2 separate regions of the Homo sapiens genome follow, and region 2 is linked to region 1. The links come from fine-mapping of genetic effects on gene expression. Tissue or cell type: whole blood. Region 1 holds a variant in brackets; the other region holds the start of a gene. All regions are shown on one strand. Distances are between the middles of the regions.

What was found. PIP is the estimated chance that this variant, and not a neighbour inherited with it, causes the effect.
Region 2: it holds the start of NT5DC2, and the variant in region 1 is fine-mapped to the expression of NT5DC2 in whole blood (INTERVAL, PIP above 0.99).

Annotation. Positions count from the first base shown.
Region 1 is chr3:52,478,127-52,485,950 of GRCh38, forward strand. NISCH (nischarin) reads left to right here. Exons shown (of 21, transcript NM_007184.4): 10 at 1-156; 11 at 323-451; 12 at 1,623-1,736; 13 at 2,058-2,169; 14 at 6,387-6,511; 15 at 7,652-7,701. Among named protein-coding and RNA genes, the nearest start is that of STAB1, 13 kb to the right of the region's middle. The variant T/C (reference allele first, on the strand shown) is at 3,391.
Region 2 is chr3:52,530,588-52,537,197 of GRCh38, forward strand. It overlaps NT5DC2 (5'-nucleotidase domain containing 2), which reads right to left and starts at 3,270. Exons shown (of 14, transcript NM_001134231.2): 1 at 2,919-3,270. The coding sequence starts at 3,150. It overlaps UQCC5 (ubiquinol-cytochrome c reductase complex assembly factor 5), which reads left to right and starts at 6,018. Exons shown (of 2, transcript NM_001124767.2): 1 at 6,018-6,319. The coding sequence starts at 6,169. RefSeq lists enhancers at 2,380-2,509, 6,337-6,610 and silencers at 2,640-2,729, 2,760-3,109, 3,170-3,669, 5,704-6,003.

The sequences.
Region 1 (7,824 bases):
TCCTACAACAAGCTCTCCTCCTTGGAAGGGCTTCACACCAAGCTGGGGAACATCAAGACCTTAAACCTGGCAGGCAACCTCCTAGAGAGTCTGAGTGGCCTGCACAAGCTCTACTCACTGGTCAACCTGGATCTCCGGGACAACAGGATCGAACAGGTGAGCCCAAGGACCTCACAGTTTTGGGATTTCTGTGCCTTGGTGTGTATCATGTTAAAGAAGAATGTTAAGATTCCTTTCATTTAAAAGAGACCATGAAACGTGTTGGCGTGTTGCTGAAGTGTTAAGAGAAGGGACCAAAGGGGATGGAACTCATACCTTGCAGATGGAGGAGGTCCGGAGCATAGGCAGCCTCCCGTGTCTGGAGCACGTGTCTCTGCTGAACAACCCTCTGAGCATCATCCCCGACTACCGGACCAAGGTGCTGGCTCAGTTCGGAGAGAGGGCCTCAGAGGTGAGCCCCAGCACAGTCAGAAGAGCCCAGGGAGACCTTCGGGATGCAGTCAAGTCTGCATGGGCGGTAGGGGGATATATGTCCATTGTTCTACCCTTGCCTGCTTCAGAAAGAGGTCCTGTCCCTTAGGGGCTTTTCAGTTCTGGGAAGTCCACTATCTCCCCAGGAAAAAGCTCCCTTGCATCTCCTGCCCCTACTGTCTGGGATAACATTGTTTATTCTAGGAAAGGGTCAGAAATAAGATCCTTAAAATATTCATATCTCCTGGACAACCTGTGGCCATAGTGCCTGACTGTAAACCCAAAGGGTTTGCCTTTGCCAGTGTAGCCCAGCCTGGTGTCTGCTGCCCCTCGCGGTGTCTGTGCACCTGCCACGATGCTGACCAGACACCCTTAACCAGGTTCACCCATCGCCTGGGCCTGGAGCAGTCCCCGTGATGCTCTGATTGGTCCTTGGACCTTCTGTTCTCCCAAAATCCCAGGTCAGAAAATACCTGGAAGTCTATTTGTGTCCCACCTCCCTCTTTGTGGCCGCAAGTGCCCCTTCCTCCACACAGTCACAAGACCATGAGATGCCATCTCCTCCCCTCCTGGGCTGCAGACTTTGGGAAGCTCCCAGGCCACAGAGTGTCAGCTCCTGTCCAGGCCCTTGGGACCTTCCCTCATTCAACCACCCTACCCAACCCCCCACTGCCTGCCAGCCACCACTCCCTCCCACATTTGCAGGCGGGGGCCCTGCCCTCTCCTGCCGCTGGTTCCCCTACCCAGGAGGCTCTCCCATCGCTCTTTTGAGAGTCTGCCTCCCACCTCTAACTGGGGGCTTAGTTCAAGTTGCCCCCTTACCCTAGTCCCAGCTGCCCAAGAGCTTGCTGCCTCCTGTTCTTGGTGAGGGACTCCAGAGACAGATGTGAGACCTCCCTGGACCCCTCCAAGGCATTCCCAGGTCACTTCCATGAGTAGTGAAGAGCCGCCTCTGAGCAGGCTGAGCCTCCCTCAGCCTATGGTGTCCTCACGTGGCCTGGCCCACAGCAGGTGCTCACGCCTCCTCCTCAGCAGAGCCCTACCATCCTCCTGCCATGCTCACCAGTCCCCATGCTGATAGCCATCACCAGTCCCCATGCTGATAGCCATCACCAGTCCCCATGCTGATAGCCACTTTCTGGATGCTCTAGGTCTGTCTGGATGACACAGTGACCACAGAGAAGGAGCTGGACACTGTGGAAGTGCTGAAAGCAATTCAGAAAGCCAAGGAGGTCAAGTCCAAACTGAGCAACCCAGAGAAGAAGGTGGGTTTGTGTGGCAGGTGGGAGGGCAGTGGTGCAGAGCCAGCCGGGATAGGAGCCAGTTTGGGGGGCTTGGGCCATGGGACTGCTCAGGGCTGCCGAGTCCCAGCTGCGCCCCTCCCTGGCTGCATGACCTCGGGCAAGTCGCGGCCTCTCTGTTCTCTGTGGGGTGGGGACAGTGGTAGTTCCTGCTCTAAGGATATGATGAGACCATCTTTACCACCCAGTTGGTGGGAACCGTTGCGCTCCCTCCTCACACCCCTGGCCTTGGGGAGCTCTGTGCTTCCTCTTCTCTCCCGGGCTGACTCAAGCACTCGTCCTCAGGGTGGTGAAGACTCCCGGCTCTCAGCTGCCCCCTGCATCAGACCCAGCAGCTCCCCTCCCACTGTGGCTCCCGCATCTGCCTCCCTGCCCCAGCCCATCCTCTCTAACCAAGGTAATCGTGTATGTATCTTGCTTCTAGTGGAGCCACACAGCCCTGCCTGGGCCCCCTGGCTGGGCTGGGGTTGGGGGAGAGGTGCCAGCACCTGCTTCCAACAGGGTCAGACACAGGGAGGGCAGTGCCTTCTGCAGGCTGGTCCTCGCGGGGGGACACATGGCAGGGGTGCCTGGCCTGATGCCAGCTGTTGCTTGCTTGGTGAGGACTCCCAATTGCTCTGATGCCCACATCCAGCTCCTCTAGGAGACCGCAGGGTGTCTGACAGGCCCTGAGGCTGCCCTCTGAACAGGCTCGGGGCTGTTGGCTCATGGGACCCATTCCCTCACCGGCAGCACAAGCAGGTTGGCTCCTGGTTACAGGAAGCCGGGCTTGTGACTTTACTGTCTGGAGCCCGAATCCCTGTGCAGGGAAAAGCTTGCTTTTATCACTGCCTCATCTCTGTGGGGTGACCCAGCCCCAGAACACCATGTTTGTGGGGCCAAGATGGGCCATCTCTGTCCCTGTGGACCCATGGAAGACCAGGCCCATTCGTCTGCCCACTATCTTAGCGTTTTCAAAGGGCTTTCACCTCTGAACCCAGGCATCCTCGGAGATGAGTGAGTGAAGCAGGTCTCATGAGCGTGTCTGCTGGCCCGGCCCCCACGGAAGAGGGGAGGGTGTGCCGTCCCGAGTGGAGCCGAGGCTCGGGACACGCAGGAAAGGACGCCGCCTGCCCGGGCTCCTGGAGACGCAGAACTTGGTGTGAGGTCTTGGGAAAACAGTTCAACCCGATGTTTTAAGAGCCAGAAAAACATTCCCACCCCTTGACCTGGTAACCCCACTGGTGGGGATTTTCTCTTAGAGGGATAAGATACCGGGAAGGGGAGGTGAAATGCTCACCACTGCCAAAACACGGGCTGCAACTGCAACATCGGAGGATGAGAGGGAGAGTCGGCTGTGGTGCAGAATGCTCAGCAGCCCTCCCAGCAGGGACAGGAAGACTGGGCAGGAAGAGGGGAGAAGCATTCAAGTTAAGGCAAAAGGCCCAACGCAGAGCAGCACACTGAGGTCACACCTGTGAGATGTGGAAGAGAATTCCTGAGCGTGGAGCGATGGGGTTAGGTGCCAGGATGATTGCCCATTTTGCTTCTGTCAGACTCTTGACTAAGGATTTCTGGTTGCATTTTATTACATAAAAGCCAGGGAGGTTATATCACGGTGAGAAAGCTTCCCTGACGC[T/C]GCCTCCTGTAGCGCAGCCAAGCGAGCCTGTGGAGGTACCATATGACTGTAGGCCTCTGGGGACAGGGAGCTGCATCTGCTTCTCAAGGCCAGGGACACAGCCATTTCTGCCAGCATCTGTTGATCAGTGAGTGAGTGAGTGGGCAGGTAGAGCAGGAGCCAGTGAAGAGCAGGCCCTGGATGGGTGGGGATGCACCATGTCCCCAGGCTGCAGCTGCAGGCAGCCCCCCACATTGTCGGAGAAGCCTCTGCACCAGCTCAGCCCCCTCCTCACTCCCCTTGTGCCCTGGGGACACTCTGCAGAGGGGCACTCTGCAGTCTGTCCCCGCCATCGCTGGACTTCTGGACATGGCCTCCAGATTTGCACCTCTTAAATAAAACTGCAGTGGATGTCTTTGTGTGCACCTCTCTTTCCTTTTGGTGAGAAACAGCAAAGATCGGACCCCTAAGGACTCTCCTGATGTCTCCGCTCTATCCGCTGAGTGCCCTTTCTGACCACTTGTTTGTACAGGCCACGGTCCAGGACGGGAGCAGATAGACTGTCCCTGTCCCTGTCCACATTTCCTTGGTCCAAACAGGGCTTGTGGGAGGTAGTGGCAAAAGGTGTTGGTCTTTTTCTCACTGATTTGGAGGCCTCCCCGTGTGTTTTTTCAGCCGCGTGTTCCTGGGTCTTGCCTGGATGGACAGGGTTTTTTAGCGCGTGGGAGCAGCTTTGCTGACCCATGCCTGTTGCTTCCAGCCTGATTCCCGAGAAGGGAGCCTGCTTGCGAAGGAACTGGCACTCGGGCCTGCCTGAAGGGGGCGCTGTCCAGACAACACCCAGCCTCCCGTCGTGGCAGGCGCTGTCGGAGCCATGGATGATTGTGACCAATAGGGGTGGTCGCCAGAGTTGATTGTCCAGCCAGGCCCAGGGGCTGAGAGGAGGCTGTGTGGAGAGGTGGTTAGGAGCCAGGGCTCGGTCAGCTGAGTTCGCATGCCAGCTTCCTAGCTGTGGGACCTCAAGCAACTTGTAGCCCCTCTGAAGCTGTTTTCTCAACTGTGAAGTGGACGCACCCTACTTCATTGATTCTAAGAGGCACGCATTTCCACCTTGTGACTTCTCTGAAACTGAGGTGCGTCTTTCAGTCAGTGGCGTCTCATAGTCGCTGTCAGCCAGCTGGTATTCGAGATGGAGTCGTGGAAAACCCGTGGACACCTTCCGCTAGGACCAAGATGGCGCCACCTGCCGCATCTTAGATTTGATGAAATGTGGTAAATAACGAGAGGCATGCATGAGCGAATGCTGGGGAGGCGCTTGGCACTACCCAGAGCTCCACAGAGGTGGTCGATGAGGGCTGCCCTTTCCCACATCCTTAGTAGGGGGTTCAAGATGACCCAGACTGTGCCCCTGGGGAGCTTGGAGCCATGCGGGAGGATGAGCCATGTGCTGGAGGAGAACAGGGTAGGATGGTGTGGGGCTTTTGTAGACTGTCTAGAGCAGAGAAGGTCTGCAGTGGAGGTGGTGTCTGAGGTGAATCTCGAAGGTGAATAGGAGTTGAACGTTAGCAGGCAGAGGGTGGATTGCAGGAGAGCAGCGGCCTGGGCAGGTGCCCAGCGTGGCCCATCAGGGTGCTTCATGCATGGCTGTGTGCTTGCCATCCTTCCTGCCTGCCTACCCCCTGCTGCTTCGCTTCGTGGGGGCGTTTGAGCTTGGGCCCACCTGCCTGCCTCGCTTGTGGGCAGAGGACCCAGGCTGTGTGAGTTGTCCTGTCCCGGGGAGCAGCTGAGCTGGTCGGGGGTCTCGACCTGTGGGGCTCAGAGGACTCGGGGTCATTTCACTGGGCTGTGGCGATGCTGGGCTGTGGAGGTAGGCCTAGGGCTCCTGTAGGCCTCAGTGAGACTGGCGGCCGATGCCCAGTGTTCACCCTGCTGGCGGCAGTCAGGAACATGTTCACAAAGGCTTTACCTTCAAGTGGTCTAGAGGTGATCTGAGGTGGAGTAACAGGTCCAGATAGGCTACGTTCATAAAACAGCTTCAGCGGGGTTTAGGAACACTGTGCATTTACGGGACGCAGTGGGTCAGAGTGCTGCTGTCCGTGGGAGGTGGCCCCAGGGCAGGTCAGTGGGCACGTCCTGTGGTAAGTGGGACTGTGGATGTGGGCTCAGGCTGGACTCAGCAGCCCTGCTGGATACCAAGGCCTGCAAGGGCTGGCCCCCTGGTGAATTGTCCCGTGCCCTGTGTATCTATGAGTCCTGCAGAGATGACAAATCAGGGGACGGGGTCATGTCTAGTCACCGTCTGGGAAAATGCTCCAGGAGTGAACACATTTCAGGCTCTTGATGGATGTACCTCCAAACTCTTCTCTGGATGGGTGGGCCAGCTTGCATGCCTGTGCCGGCCTCTGCCCAGCGAGGTCAGGGCCAGGCCACACAGTCAGTCTGACTTTGGCAGAAGTTGAGAGGCAACACTTGTCTCTTGTTTCAGCTTGCCTTTCTTTGTGTACTTCTGAGAGCGAGCATTCTTTTCATGTTCTATCCGCTGGCCGTTCTTCTGCGGAATGTCTGTTCACGTCCTTTGCAGTCTGTTAATGAGGTTTCCAACCTTCCCTCATTTTTGTAATCTGTAAGAACTTTTTACAGACTAGCGATATAAATCCTTGTCAAATATTGCAAACACTTTTCTCATTTCATCTGGTTTTAATCTATCCTGGTTTTTAAAAAATGTGTCTGTGGAAGTTTAATTTTTATGTAGTCACATCTCAGTTTTTTTCCATTGCATTTATTCTCAGAATGCTTCTCCCTGCCCTGAGATTAGATAAGCAGTCATTTGTTCTTTCTTGAGTTATTTTGAGATTTCAGTTTTAACATTTTCTTCTATAATCCATGTGGCTGGGTTTTGGGATCTGGCTAACCCCCGCCATGCCAGTAGCCTGAGGGGCCCAGCCCCACTTGTTGAACAGCCGCTCTCCCCGCCCCACCCACCCTGCCTGCCTGCCCACCCGCCCTGGTCTCTCCAGGAATCATGTTCGTTCAGGAGGAGGCCCTGGCCAGCAGCCTCTCGTCCACTGACAGTCTGACTCCCGAGCACCAGCCCATTGCCCAGGGATGTTCTGATTCCTTGGAGTCCATCCCTGCGGGACAGGTAATGCCCTCTTCCCGCTTCTGGGGACCATACATCTGTGGGTGGACTCTTCTGCTTGGGGTTGTGTGCAGTAGGAAGTGGCCTAGCTGGAGCTGAGGCAGATGCTTCCAGGGTTTGGCGTCCTCTGCTTTGTGCCACGGTCTTTCTCTTGGACCTGTCTCTGGTTGAGTGTCTTCCTGACAAACACAGTGGTTAAGGGTTTATTTTCAGCCTCCCTCCTTCCCTTCCCCACCCACCTTGGTTGATGGGAACAGGCAGTTCTCTGTCACTGGGCCCAGGGCACGAGGGGGGCAGGTGGAGAGGGTGGCCCTTGACCCTGTGAGCAGGCTTCCCTGGGGAAGGCATTTCAAAAGACCCTCGTGCAGGGGCTTGTTTGGGTTTCTTCTCTGTTTCCTGGCACCCCTGGAGCCACTCGGCGCCTTTCCGCATGTCACCCTGGTGGTCTGGGAAACAGTCTCACTCTGGCGCCTCCTCTGTGGTTGTTACTGAGAGTTCTGGGGCCCCTTCCTTTGTCCTGAGGAAAGACAGGAGGAAAGCAAGGGTGCTTGCTGTGTGCTTCGCAAATGTGCTTGGTGCCTGGGCCTCCCTCCAGCCCCATCTCTGCAGCAGCACAAGGTTATGGCCTTGTGACACTGGGACAGTTTGCAGAGTCCTTGTCTGTCCTCAGTACTCCACAGTATTCTGCCATCACCCTTTCCAGGGTCACACAGCAAGAGATTCCCAAGCCCTAGGTATTCCCCAGTGCACAGAGACCATTGGGAGGGACTTGCCAGGGCTGTGTCCACTGCTGGCCAGTTAGGGTCGGACCAAATTTGTAGACTGTCTACCTGGACCCTTGCGTGGCACAAGGAGCAGTCAGATGCTGGATCCCTGGAGAGTGGCGAGAGGCTCTGGCCCTAGGTTGCGAGTGGGAATCCCAGCCCTGCTGTGTGCTGGTGGGATAACCAAGTGGGTCTCTGCCCTTGGGTCCCAGAGTGGGCCCCAGGGTCCCAGAGTGGGCTCCAGGGTACAGCGTGGGGATGGGGAGCCTCCTCAGGGCGGTGATGGAGGGCAGAATGCCCAGCTCAGGGTCTGGCAACCAGTAAATGGCTGGGGCTGGCTGCAGTAGGTGGGGACTGACTGTGTTTCTTTCTCCATCAGGCAGCTTCCGATGATTTAAGGGACGTGCCAGGAGCTGTTGGTGGTGCAAGGTAAGGAAGAGGTTGGAAAGGGACCTGGGCCTGGCCACACAGCCTTATGCACACACACTGCTGTGGGCCAGGGGTGGCCAGTCAGGTTTTTTTAAAAATCCGTTCACAGAAGGCCTATAGAAC
Region 2 (6,610 bases), 52 kb after region 1:
ACCTACAGTCCCTGCTACTCAGGAGGCTGAGGCGAGAGGATTGCTTGAAACCCAGTAGTTCAAGACTGGTCTAAGCCATATAGCGATACCCTGTCTCTGTGAAAACATTTTTAAAAAGAAAAAAAAAATTGTACCAACCTACAGAATTACTAAGACTGTCATATGGAAGGTGCTGCTCTGTGCAGCAATCTCACTCTGCACCTGCACATATGCAGGATTAAATGGGTGATATGTTTCCTGAGCCTATGAGCATCCTGTCCCCAATTTCCCAGTGTCCCTCCAGAAGCAGGGGCTGCAGGGAGAAGGGAGCAGGCAGGACTAGATGTACAGGGTACATCTAGTACCCCTGCCTTGCAGGGGCCCCAGCTCTAAGACTCCAGGGGATCCCTGTCTCAGCCACAACCCCAGTGCCGATGACAAAGCAGGAGCTGCCAGGCCAGAGGGCCAGGGAAGCCCCACAGTGTGCCTGGCAGCTGCTGCACTCAAGAGGCAGACATCTCGCTGATGTGCTCCGTGCCCAGAGCACTTGCCTCAGAGGCACTCTGGGGACACAGGGCTCCATTCCCACCCCTTTCCTTTGGAGCCAAGTTCAGGGTGTGGGTGGGGGATCAGGTGTGGCTGGTTCCCCAGGCCAGCACAGAGCGGCTGCTCCGAAGATCTGTGGGTGTAGACAGGAGTCTTCACTTGGATGCAAGTGAGACAGTTGACTGCAACGCTCTAGGGAGCTGCTTCTGAGCCACCCCTCAAGGCCCAGGGTTCTGGTGTGTCACTAGGACCCTGGGCCTTGCCCTTCCCATGGCCCTGAGTTCCCGGATACCAACTGTGACTGTGACTCTTGGTGCAGAAGACCTGGGAGGGTCTGCTCGGCAGTGCAGCCCCTTGCTGGCACAGAGTCCTGGTTAGGTCCAGGCCTTCACCTCTGCCCCTAAGGATGTTCCCAGGGGCCCAGGGGCAGACAGTCCTCCCAGGAACAAAGCAGGATGTGGAAACAGCCACAGGGCCTGGTGGCCTGGCCTGATTTCTAGACTAGAAGAACCTTGGCTCTGGGGCGACAGAAGCCTGTTCCCTTCCATAGGTGGTGTGGGTGGGGGGTGGGGGTGGGGCAGCTGAGGGTGTGTCCCACTCAGCATGTCCAGCAATTGCCCTCCTTTCTCCTCAGCCCTAGCTCCCACACCTGCCCATGGTGCCAGGTCCCAGGGCCAACTGCTCCCTAGCAGCCGTGACACTTGTGGATGCCTTAGAGGCTTGTCTTGTTCAATCCTCACTCCCATCCTGTGAGGCAGTCCCACTTATTCCCCCATCGTCCGGAGGAAGAAACTGGGGCTCAGGGAGGTGAAGTCACTTGCTCCAAACCACCCAGTAACAGGCACCGGGGTTGAGATCACCATTCAAGTCACCCCACCTGCATTAATCACTCTGCCTCTCAGCCTAGCCTCCCAATGTCACCACACTGAGGCCAGGTGGGTGGGGGCTGGGGGACTGAGGGACCTGTTGCACTGCTCTCAGCCCGTGGGCATTAGCCCAAAGCGGACCTCGGCGCCCAGAGGTGTGAAGCTGGCTCCTGCTGGTGCTCACCATGGGATCTTGGTGGGAATGACTTTGCTCCTTGTATGACAAGAGGAGCTTAGAGGGCTGTGAGGCTCCAAAGATGCAGGCAGGCCCAGGAGGACAATGTCCAGTAGATCCCCGTAGTCCTCCCTGAAACCTCCAAGGCAGGCTTCTCAGGATACTCTGAGGGTCTTCTCCGGGCCCAGAGCAAAGACTTCTTAAATAACGCTGGGCCGCCCCTCCACAGACACAAACTCAACCTGGGACCTCGAGGGTGGACAGATGCCCAAGGCTTCAAAATGACCATTCCTCAGGGGCCTTTACCATCCTGCCTTTACTGGTCAAGAAGTGATTCTCCGCCACCCCACAAAGCCGGAGTGAAAACCCCTGTCTAGCCAGTTAGAATCTTCCAGACAGGGCTACTTTGTTTTATCAGACAACAAAAGCCACGTCACCCCTGGGGGTTCCTCCGGAAGCTCTCCTGCCCTGCTTGGCCTGGTTCCAGTCATCACCCAACCCTGGGACAGAGAGGCCCCAGGACTGCGTTTCATGCTTGAGAGAGGGTGAGACTTGCTGGGGGACCACCCAACTGGTCAGTGATAGGGTCACGACCCAAACCATATCTGTCTGCTGCAGAAGCAGGGCCCCACTAGACCCACGGAGACAAGCAGGCAGATGTCCAGCACTCTCAGCTCTGGGGCCTCACTAGTGCGCCCCAGCCGGCCCCCTCCAAGAAGGGGCCTCAGCCTCCTCACGCCATTTCTCAGAGGGAGAGAGCAGGGACAGGGAGGTTAAGTGCCCTTTGCAGCCCTAGTCTGGGCTCCAGGGGGCGGGGGTGACTTGGCTTCTCCCAGCCTTCGCTGCCCGGGCTGAGAGGGGGCCGGACCTCCAGGGCGACATCGAGGTGTGTCTGGGAAGTCCAACCGGTGTCCCCTTTGGTCCGGCCGTCCCTAGGAGCCCGTTCCGCCCGGCGCCGCTCGCTGGCTTTGTCCACAGCACTCTCCCGCCCCAACTAAGGGTTGGCCGAGAACAAGGGGTTGGGGGCGTTTCCACCGCGGCTTCACGGCAGGCGGGACCCCGAAGGAAGTCGGCGGGGGCCCAGCACTCCGGCAGCCGCTCGAGGAGCCCCGAGCTCCTGCAGACCGAGCCGGGGAACAAACCTCCCGCCCGCCCCCGGGCGTCGGGGCGCCCCAGAGGCCCCCGGGATGAACGGCCGGAGCTTCTCGCGAAAAGCCGCCCGGCCCTTGCGCTCCGGGGCCCTGGCGAGCCCCACTGGGTGTTTCCCCGGAGGAGCGGCACCCTGGGGCTCGGTCCGTCCATCAGTCCACGCGGAAGACACCCCGGCGCACGTCCCGCCCCGGCTCACCCACCGTGCACCAGTCTCCGCATGTCCTGGTAGCGAGCCCATAGGTGCGCGCTGAGGTCGGCGCCGCTGGTGGGTGCCTGGGCGGGCGCGGAGCGCGGGACGCCGGGGCAGTGGGCGCCGGGACCCGGGGGGCCGCACCCAGGGCAGGAGGGCGAGGACGAGGCGGCTCGCGGCCCGCCGTGGCCTCCGCACAGCAGCCAGCGCCGAGCGGCCGCCCGCAGCCCCGCACCCGCCATGCCCACCGCGCGCCGCCCGCCGCCCGCGCTGCCCTCGGCCAGCCCGCCGCCCGCCGCCCGCCGCCCTCCGACTGCGCGCCCGCCACGGTGGCCTCGTGCTCCTCACGGCGGCCGGCCAATGGGTGCGGCGCGCGGAGCCCGGCCTGCCAATGGGCGCGCCCCTCGGCCCGGGGGGCGGGAGGCCCCGGACCCGGCGGGGCGGGGCGGGGCGGGGAGGGCTCCCCAGCCCCCTCCCCCAGCCAGTCTCCGGCGCGGTCCGGGAGGACTCTGCGCCCCCCTTCGGCCGTCACGCCGGCGATGGCGGCGCCTTTCCCTGGCCCCAGCCCTGGAAGTCAGCGGGCCTAAGAGCGGCCGTCCCTGAGAGGCTCCGGACGGCCGAGGCGCCGAGAGGAGACAGCCGGAGCGCGACGGGTACCCCCCGGGCCCCCGGGTCCTCTGCCGCCCTCTCCGCTCCCGGGTCCGCCCGCCCTACCCTGCGCCTCTGGATGCTTCTGACCCCAGATCCTCCGCTCCTCCCCCTAGTCCTGGTGCTCTCCTTTCCCGGGGTCCTGGTCCCCGGTCTCTGGGCTCGGACTGACTGCCCACTGACCAGAGCCCGGGCCAGTCCACTCACTGGTCTAACAAATAAAGAGCCCTTCCCGCGCTTCCCGGTGCCAGGCCCACGCTGGGGGAGGCCGAGGGGCCTGCAGGGCAGCCGACGTCCGCTAACCAGGTGACTGGGCCGTGCGCTGCAGGGTTGTGGGCCACGGTCACTGCGCCCGCTTGGTTCGGACCTCGGCAACTGGCCGCACTGACCCGTCAACTCCCGGTTTCCCGGCGCACGCCCCTCGTGAGATGCTGTGGTCTTTTCTAGCAACGTCGACAGGCTTTCCAACAAAATTCCTCTTTCCTGCGCAGAACCGCTCTCCACTCGCATTTCTTCTGCTCAGATCCGTATTCCGAGCCCGCACGCATACCAGGCTGTGCTCAGGGTCCGGAGGAGGCCGACCCAGTAGCCGTGGGCCCTGTCGGAGGGGAGCCAGCTGGGCGCGCGTTGTTTTCTGAGGTGGCCGCGCTGTCTTTCAGGGTGTGTGTACATTCGAAACTCCACTGAACCTTGATTGAAGACCTACAGTGTGGCAGTCCATGGCCTGGGGACTGGTAAGGATTGAGGCCGTAGGATGGGCTCGAGTGTGGCGGTGTCCCCAGGGCCCCAGTGAGCAAGTGGGTGTGCTGGGAACCTGGCCACAAGTGAACCTCCTCCAGGCGAGGGGATGCCCTGCAGCATCCAGCCGTCAAAACCTCCTGTAGAAACGGGAGCGAGCATCAAGCCTGTGTGTGTGCATGCTTGGGCGGAGTCTACCCGGAGGAGAAAGAGGCTTCCGGGCTGGCCCTCCAAAGCCGGTTGTACAGGCGGCAGCTCAGGCTGCTCACTGCGGGCCCTATGACCCTTTCTGGGGCCCTGCTTGCTCTCTCCAGTCTGCTTTTGTATATTTTGTGTCCATATCACCAAATCGTCTCATTGGTTCTAAGCTTTCATTTACCTTCCTTAGATTGTCTAATAGTTGTCTCCTTTCTCAAAGCTGTTCCTGCAGTTTTTACTTTAGTCCTAGGTAATGGGGTGACAGCCCCTTTCAGTTATCTTCAGCAAGCACAGCAGCATGAGAAGACGCAATTACAAGTGAAGTCTCTTAAGTCAGAGCCCTGCTTCTACCTGGCATAGTCTCTTAAACTGTCAGTTAAGAGACTACATATAAACAATACACGTTCAGACTCGGCGCGGTGGCTCACGCCTGTAATCACAGCACTTTGGGAGGCCAAGGCAGGAGGATCTCTTGAGCCCAGGAGTTTGAGACTAGCCTGGCCAATATAGTGGGACCCCCATCTCTACAAAAAATTAAAAAATTAGCCGGGCGTGGTGGTGCACGCCTGTAGTGGTGGGAGGATGGCTTGAGCCGGGGAGGAGGGGGTTGCAGTGAGCCGAGATTGCGCCACTGCACTTCAGCCTGGATGACAGAGCGAGGTCCTGTCTCAAGAAACAAACAAAAACCATGTTTGGGAATACATGTGAAGAGCGAGGGCTCTGCCAATCATTATCATCATAATGAATATTCTAACTAATATTAATCAGTTACTATGCTCCAGGGTTGTGTTCAGTGCATCATTCCTATTACCGCACTAAATTATCACAGCGTCAGAACAAGGCCTCCGTTTTACGGCTTAGGGAATTGAGGCACAGATGGGCTAAGGGAGCACCTGTAGAGCAGGGATGTGGTTTGGTAACAGAGTGCATGCTCTTTATACTGCTCTTCTGCGATTATTGTGAATAAAGCGCCTACAAGTGCCTGTGGAACTGTAAGTGCCCCATACAAGATAGCTTTTATTAATTTTAGGGTTCTCACGGGGCGCTTACTTAGATTTTTGCTGTGATAATTGATAAAGTTCAGCTTTCAACACTCCATATCAAATTCTGTTACTTTAGAAGTCTAGGCACCAATCACGTCTCCGAAATAAACGCAAGGCATTGCATAATTGCATTTTGGAATGTGGTGCTGTACATAGTCCATCAGAGAGGGTCATCACTTCTATCTGGGTATTAGGAATAAAAATGGCGGTGGCAGAGTAGGGGGCGCGGCTGCCAACTGCGAGCTCAGACCTGCACTGGGGAGGCAGGGGGCGGGGCCGGGCCGGCGCCACGTGGGCTGTCCTTCCCTTTTGGGCCGTCCCACCTCCAGAGCTGAGGCGCCTGCGCCAGCTCCTTCGAGGCCCTGCTCGGCTTCAGGGAGCACGCGCGCCCTGCCGTGCTCTGATTGGCGGAGCTGCACGCCCCCGCTGCAGTCTGATTGGCGGATCCGCCTCGCTTTAGAAGGTCGGCGCCCAGTTCCGGCACTCGTGCGCCTACCAGACAGTGGCGGAGGACGGCGCTCGCTAGTCTCCCAGGTCGCGGTACACGGCGAGAACGGGCGGGGCGGTCTCGGCTGCGTCCGGGCGATCCAGTGCTTAGTTCCGTCATATCCCTCTCCACGACCTCGGTCGAGCATGTTCACCAGGGCCCAGGTGAGACGGATTCTGCAGCGGGTGCCCGGGAAGCAGCGATTTGGCATCTACCGGTTCCTGCCCTTCTTTTTTGTCCTGGGAGGAACGATGGAGTGGATCATGATTAAAGTGCGCGTGGGCCAGGAGACCTTCTGTAAGTGAGGGGGTAGCAGTCTCTGTTTCCTTTCAGGAAGGCACGAGGCGGTAGGGATCCGTTTTTCTGGGGAGTATTCTCAGATTGCAGACCGCGCATTCCACTCAGAGCGCTGGGCGAGTGCAGTTCCATTCGCTTGGCAGTCAGGGCGGCCTGGCTCTCCTGTAGGCCGGGCACATTGGCGTCCAGCCTTGTGACCTTCCCTGCACTTACAGGCGAGATCACGTGCTTCTTCCAGCCCTCTCATGCCTGCCCTTCACCCCTGCCGGTGACATCGTTTGGGCTTAAGGA